2 linked regions of the Homo sapiens genome follow. The protein of the gene in region 2 purifies or fractionates together with the protein of the main gene of each other region. This does not show direct contact. Each region holds a gene or a part of one and is shown on either strand. Other genes may lie near its edges.

Region 1 (3,500 bases), on a different chromosome or scaffold from region 2:
AACCTCAGAAAAACCTAAATGGAGGGGTTTTATGTAAAATACCAAACCAGTACTCCTTAAAACTGGCAAGATAATGAACAACAAGCAAGGATTGAGAAACGATCAGACAGGAGGCATGGTGACAAAATGCACTGTGGGTATCCTGGATGGAGCTCTGGGACAGAAAAAGGATATTAATGGAAAAACTAATGAAATCCAAATGAAATTTGCAGTTTAGTTAATAGTGATGTACCAATATTGGTTTTTAGTTGTCGCAAATGTACTATCGTAATATAAAAAGTTAATGGTAGGAGAAACTGGGTGAGGGGTATATGGGAGATCTCTGTGTTATCTTTGTAACTTTTCTGTAAATCTAAAATTATCCCAAAATAAAAAGGTTATTTAAAAAAAAAACTAACAGGTTTGCCTGCCAAGAGATGAGTTTAAATCTTTTTAAGAAGTTTAAAATAGGTAGTATAAATATATAGCAATGGAAGTGTACTTCAACAATTATATGTGTTTTAAAGGAAAAAAATTTGCATATAGGCTATAAACAACCAATTTGTATGTATAAGAGACACTGTTATTTTTAAATACTTGTATTCCCTTAAAAAAAAGTATTGTATTCTTTTCTTAGGTCCTTCCACTGGAAAACCAAATGAAAGAATCAAAGCGTTTCCCTCAAGCGTTGAATATTGGCATGGGGATTGTTACAACTTTGTATGTAACATTAGCTACTTTAGGATATATGTGTTTCCATGATGAAATCAAAGGCAGCATAACTTTAAATCTTCCCCAAGATGTATGGTAGGTGTATATGAATTTGTCAATATTAGTTTATATATTTTATAATGTACCACTGTTTGATGATAAAGTCGTGTTCTTGGATTTATGGTTTAAACATTTAAAATTTTTACTGTGATTTCCTGGAATCCCATCACTTTGGGAGGCAGAGGTGGGCGGATCACCTGAGGTCGGGAGTTCAAGACCAGCCTGGCCAACATAATGAAACCCCATCTGTACTAAAAATACAAAAATTAGCCAGGCGTGGTGGCGGGTGCCTATAATCCCAGCTACTCAGGAGGCTGAGGCAGGAGAATCGCTTGAACCCGGGAGGCGGAGGTTGCAGTGAGCTGAGATCACACCATTGCAATCCAGCCTGGGTGACAAGAGCGAAACTCCGTCTCAAAACAAAAAAAAAATTACTGTGATTTATTTATTTGTGCAATCTGGAATTTTTTCATAATCTTCGTAGGAGACCAAATATGAACTTAGGGTTCTTGTGGGATTTTTAAAAAAATATTTAAAATTGGAGTTTTTTCCAAATCCAAGTCAAGTATAAGAGTAGAACAGGGATTATTTTAATATGGACACGTTTTAATAAAAAAATTAATACTTGTCCTTATTGCCAAAAAAGCCAAACACTCACGCTTCCTAATAAAATAATAGATTACATCATTTATGGTCCTTGCTATTTTGGTCAGCTTCATAGTGTATATTTTCCAAGTCCTTTCAGAACACAGTTGGGACACATTATAAATAATAAAACAAAATGGTGCATCATCTTAATGTTCTCTTTCATATTGGGACCATATCCTGCTAAATGAAGCATCATATGTATATGATTTTTCCTTTTTCCAGAGGTTTGTCTTTGGAAAATTTTCAAAGATAGTGGCAGTGATTACCATGCAGACTTACTTCCTTATTTACAAGATGGAAGGTAACTCCTTAGTTTTCACATACGCAAAGAATAAATTTGGAATCGCTGATTGAATTATTGTCACACTACTACTTTAGCTACTTGGATTAAAAAAATCTGTGTAATCTTAAATGTCTTACTATATTAGTGAAAAAGCAACAACAGCAGAAATTATATCTTCTGACTGGCCTCCTGGTGAGAATTTGTCTGTCATTTAATAGTCATTTGAATCCTGGGCATTTATTGGAGTCAAAAATGTTGCTAGGACAAATGTTTGTAGGAAGCCATTTATGACAGAGCAAATGGACCTAGGATAGTTTCCACATTGCACAAGGAGCATACATGTGGTGTGTCTGTATTTTTAAATTACAATTTAACTTCAGCTAACATAAATGTATTTCAAAATGGAAACATGTCTCAAATGTTACAAATATATTTCAAGGTGGAGTTATTATTACAAATAAGATATATGGTTATTTAGCATTTATTTTATTAACTCTTTATAGTTAATTATATAATTTTATTGCCTTCAAATGTGCTTTTTGGTTTCAAGCTTAAACAGCTTAGTATAAGAGAATCAAGCTAAAAATATGGTAGTAAGTTCATCTTTTCAAATACTGTACAATGTTTGGAAAATAGAATGATATTTTTTCCTCATTTAGAAGAATATTTTGAGCCGGGTATGGTGGCTTATGTCTGGAATCCCAGTGCTTTGGGAGGAAAAGGTGGGAGGATCACTTGAGGCCAGAAGTTTGAGACTAGCCTGCATAACATAGTGAAACTCCAAATCTACACAGAATTTAAAAATTAGCCAGGCATGGTGGCACAAGTCTGTAATTGCAGCTATTTGGGAGGCTGAGTGGGAGGATCACTTGAGCCTGGGAGGTTGATTATACAGTGAGCTGTGATGGTACCACTGCACTCCAGCCTGGGAAACAGAGAGACATTTTGTCTCAATAATATTAATAATAACAATAATATTTTGACTAGGTCTTAAAAATAATCATTTCAGAAATTGACAACTATTTTTAATGCCAAATGTAAAAGGTACATGGAAATAATGTCAAAATTCTTTCCCGGTCTTATTTACAAAAGCATGTAAGGAATATTTTAGGGGGGAAGTTTCCAAAGTGGGAGTGTGCACACATTCACATTGAAAGGTTTGTATTACCAGGCACATAAGAATGTGGTGTAGAAATAGTGGGCGAGAATAAGACAGAATGCTTTTGGTATTCACAACTCAATCTTGGAGGGTGACACTGTCCCTGCAGTAGCTCCAATTAATCCTTCCCTTTTCCCACAGCCCCTTTCTACATCTGACCTTATTCCTAATTGCTGTGACTTTCCAATTAGAATGGAACTAGTTGAGACTCTTGATTTAAAAGGGACCATTAGATCATAGTTTCTATTCAAGGAAGTCTAGCTAGACACCACCTTTCATTAGAGGAAACCCTAGTACAAGTATCCTAAGAAACAACAAAAATCTGGAAAAAACAGGAAAGCCAGTCAAGACACATATTTCCCTTTAGAGAATTTGCATTGGTTAATGCCTTTGCACTGTGGAGATATGCCCTATGCAGCCTATAGTCTGTTTCTGTGTGGACTCTGCAGTTGTGGGACAATTAAAATAATAGTCACAACTGAGGAATACAAGAGAAGAGTTGCTTGTCTTTTTACAGTCATGGCATTCTGTAAAGTGAGAAGTTTGGACTAGAATAATCATGGGATTACATTTAAGATTTCTTTCTTAATATACTATATACGAGTCTCTCTTTCACTTCTTTCCTGTGCTTCACACAAGAGGCCTCGAAAGTTAGAGATT
Region 2 (4,231 bases):
TTAGAGAAACATACTGAATCATTTTTCACTTATGGTATTGGCAAAAATCAAAACAAACATCTGTTGGTTGATAACACATGGTTATGGCAGGAATGTAGGAAGGCTGTGACTCCTAGGCATCTGCTGGGATGACTTGTATTTTTGGTGTGCATTAGCACAACCTCTGTTGGGGGCTATATAACAATATCTATCCAAACTACATCTTTAGTGATCCAAAATTCCGCTTCTGGGAATTTATTTGGTAGATAAGCTTGCATTTGTATGAGATGATCCATGTAAAAAGTTATTTTTTATAGCACTGATTATGACTGCACAAGGTTGGAAACTATGCAGATGTTCACTGCTGGAGAACTTTCATGCAATGGATACCACTCAACTGTGAAAGAAAAAAGAGATAATTCTCTCTATAGTGAAGTGGAAAAACCTCCAAGATTAACTTTGCACAGAAAGAGCAAAATGCAGAGTGGTGTGTATGGAATGCTATCTTTAGTGCAAATAAGAGGAAAAACAAGAATATATTTTTATTTACATTTTTTTAAGTTAACAAGTAATGTCATAACACTCACTAGGTGTCAGGCACTTTATAAGTATTAATTTAATCCTTCTAACTTCAGGAGAAGGGCAGTAGGAACAGAGAGGTTAAGTAATTAGTCTAAAGTCACACTGCAAGTCACCTAAAGGAGCCAGCATTGACACCCAGGGCCTCCAGCTCCAAAGTTCCTGTTCTTAAGCATCATATTAAGCAGACTAATTTGAAGTTAAGAAAGGGAGGGTGGGAGGGAGGACTGGGTGGATGGGAGACTTACGTGACTTTTTATACATGTATTTTAGAACCATGTACATGTGTTACCTATTAAAAAGTTGAATTAGAAAAAAATATGTTTGATATCCTCAAGTCACTCACTTTCCACATGAGAGGCAGACGTCTCAAGAGAAGTAATAGTAGCAGCCTCTAGTGGGGGTTTATCAAAGTCTTACCCACTGTCCTCTGAGATTTTAGCATGAGAAAGATTATTTAACCTCATGAGATAGATTCCGTGCCCTGTGACCTGGGGTGAGCAGCTAACACTTGGGGCGCTGCAGTCTGGGGAGGCTGAGTGCACCGGCCCCCATGACCCACAGCCGTTGCCTTCACAGACCCCTTCTTCAGGAGCGCCCAGAGGTGGATCGCCGCCCTGGCAGGGACCCTGCCTGTCTTGCTGCTGCTTCTTGGGGGAGCCGGTTACTTCCTGTGGCAACAGCAGGAGGAAAAAAAGACTCAGTTCAGAAAGAAAAAGAGAGAGCAAGAGTTGAGAGAAATGGCATGGAGCACAATGAAGCAAGAACAAAGCACAAGAGGTAGCTGACCTTGGGAGTTTATCTGAGCCCCTGGCTTACGGGCCAAAGCCCAAAGACCTCACGCCCATCCCCACCGCAGAGCTCAGTTGCTTTTAAGGTTAATTTTTTAGAAAACCCCCTCACCTGTAACAGTTCATTATTATTTCTGCTTATTTTCCAGTGAAGCTCCTGGAGGAACTCAGTAAGTTCCCATTCCCCCAGAGACCCAGGCATGTCTTCCTGTCCCTGCTTTATGCGCCTTGATGCATCTTCCCCTGTTCCTTCCGTTGCAGGATGGAGAAGTATCCAGTATGCATCTCGTAAGTGCCTCTGACATTTTCTCTGAATTTGAATCTATAACTGTCTGTGCTTGAATAGTTTCCACTCTTAACTCTTTCCCCAAGGTTGGGAAGTGGTCTTAGATCCCTTTGACTAAGGAAAGAAAATAGATGTGCCAATTCCTAGTCATTGCCAAAAAGAAAAAAAAAAAAAGGAAAGAGAAGAAAGGAAAAAAGAAAGAGTGTGGCTGATTGGAGTAACACCCAGGAGGAGTGTTTCTTTCTCCCTCTCTTTCTCTTTCTCAGCTGGTCTCGAAGAAAAGATGCCTTCAATTTATCTCTACCAGGGGCCACAGACTCTATAGCCCTGCAAAGCACTGAGGAATATCCAGGGGCACATTTGTAAAGGAAGGGGGAAGAGGTAGATGAAGTGCATTCTCTATGGCAGGAACTTCACTAGTCATTTTACATAATCTATAGGCTCCAGAGAAGAAAAAGAATAAAAGATAATAAAGAACAAGAAAATCTGAAAAGAGAGAGGGAGAAAAGTGTGTCTAATAAACAAAAGTGGCCTGAACAGTCGCTCAGTTGGTACCAATTTATTCTAACTGACTTCAAACACTAGTCCCTGAAATTGCTCATTAAATTTCCCAAATTCTTTTCAGAGTAAGGTACGAAATTAGATTGATATAGAAGGATCTTGCAAACACACACACACACATACACACATTTAAATATATATATACACATATATACATATATACACATATATATGTGCATATATATGTATATATATATGTGTATATATATATGTGCATATAGACATGGAGACACCTATGCCCAGGTACAGGTATATAGATACATTCCAAATAGATCAGCTGAACACCATCAGGAAGGAACTCTCGCAATGTCTGCCATGTCACTAGCATTCGACTGATGTTCCTGGATTTGATACTAAGAACAACACAATAGAAAGAATTGAACCTGCAGAGGAGGAAGATACAGGTGGTAAAAAAAAAAAAAAAAAAAAAAAGATTAGATGGATGTAAAGTTAAGGGAATGGGGCCAAATCAAAAATGGCAAGTTCAGGTGACATCTCTATCTTTTTTTCATTGTAGGGGGAGAGAGACATTCAGCCTATAATGGTGAGTGAACCTGATGCTCTCTGAGTTTGCTGGGACACGTGCCATGAACATTTCAACCTTTTCTCTGCTGTGACCCATTGATGTTCTCATTTGCATGAATCAGATTTAACCCAAAGACTCAATTTGTGTGTTGTGGGGGGTTGATTTCTGCTTTTCTGGAGAATCAGAGAGACTCCTGACCCTGCACACCCCCTTGCAAAGCCTGGCCTTGCAGCCTGTACCCTTCATTGCAGAGGGAACAGAGCTCACCATTTTTGAGAAGGTACCACCCCTGATCCATCAGAGCTGTAGAAGAGGGAGGCTGGACCCTGGAAGAGACTCTGAAGAAAAGGAGAGAAAACATGTAGTGAGGGGAGAGTGCAGTGGGGAAAAGTACAAGAATACTGACCTTTTCCTTATCTGTGTCTCCTTCCTTTCAGAATGGAAAAAGGCCCTCTTCAAGCCTGGTGAGTAAATCACTGTGTGTTCCCTGGACCAACAACCTGAGGGACTATATTCCTTTTTCCTTTTTACTTCTCCAACTGTTGTGATTTGGGGAAGAAAAGCTCCCATGACTAGGAGAATTTGGGGTAGGCAACATTAAATTCCAATCTGAAAAGTGGGCCCATCTCCAAGACCCTTTCTGCTGAGAGCCCAGGGAACCAGGGCGAATAGATCTCTTGCACTTCCTCAGACCTTCCTGGGAAGGAAGACATATAAAGGGTGGATCTGAGGGGAAGGAGACACACACTGAGTAATACTGCAGGGAGAGTGAGGATGGAAATGCCAAGGAAAGGAGGCGATGCCTGCCCAAAGAACTTAGTCCTTCCCAGACTTCTCATGCCACCTACTGTCAGTGCCTTCTCAAAAAAACTTAATGCTTCTGAGCTTTGGCCTCCACATATTTAGGTGATGATTTCAATCTGTGTTTGTGGGGGTTGAGGTGAAGACTGAAGGAATAATAAATATCCATTGGTCAAAAACCTTAAGAAGGAGATGATGAGTTCAAACTGCGTGGTTGAAGGTTTGCAGAAAGGAGGGTTAAGGGAAAGCAACAAGGAAAAGTGCAGTGCCCCCATGGTTCCCAACAGTGGGGAGCTGTCTCCACTCCTACACTGGGACGGCTAGGGAGGGGAGGCAGTTACTGGAACCCAGAATAAGAAGTAGCTCAAAGAGAGGGCTCCCTGAGAAGAGTCTTCAGGCCTTGTTAGAGCAGCAGCAGCTGCTGCTGGCAGGGAGGAAGCAGGAAATTAAACGGTGTGTCTCTCCTTTCTTTCTCCTTCCAATCTCCTATCAGGGCCTCCCATTGGCCAAACCCAACAGCAAACCAGAGGACAAGGGAGCCCAGTGGCACTGTCTCAGGAATCTGCCCAGAGGACAGATTCCTGGGGCCCAGAAGAGGGTGGAGAAAGCTGAAGGGTGGAGAGTGAATCTAGGGCATATAAGGCACCACATAGAGCCCAGCACAGAGACGGCCTTGCAGCTATCAGGAAGATGAGGAGCTTCCTTCAT

What was found.
Region 1: the proteins of BTN3A1 (region 2) and SLC36A4 fractionate together in Homo sapiens (co-fractionation; one large-scale study listed by BioGRID). This does not show direct contact.

The regions. Positions count from the first base shown.
Region 1 is NC_000011.10:93,159,992-93,163,491, reverse strand, and holds part of SLC36A4 (neutral amino acid uniporter 4), read left to right. Parts: intron 1-616; coding exon 617-786; intron 787-3,500.
Region 2 is NC_000006.12:26,408,396-26,412,626, forward strand, and holds part of BTN3A1 (butyrophilin subfamily 3 member A1 isoform a precursor), read left to right. Parts: exon of another isoform or gene 1-327; coding exon of another isoform or gene 328-466; intron 467-1,137; coding exon 1,138-1,338; intron 1,339-1,498; coding exon 1,499-1,519; intron 1,520-1,610; coding exon 1,611-1,637; intron 1,638-2,713; coding exon 2,714-2,740; intron 2,741-3,159; coding exon 3,160-3,186; intron 3,187-4,016; coding exon of another isoform or gene 4,017-4,135; exon of another isoform or gene 4,136-4,231. UniProt on the Homo sapiens protein: Plays a role in T-cell activation and in the adaptive immune response. Regulates the proliferation of activated T-cells. Regulates the release of cytokines and IFNG by activated T-cells.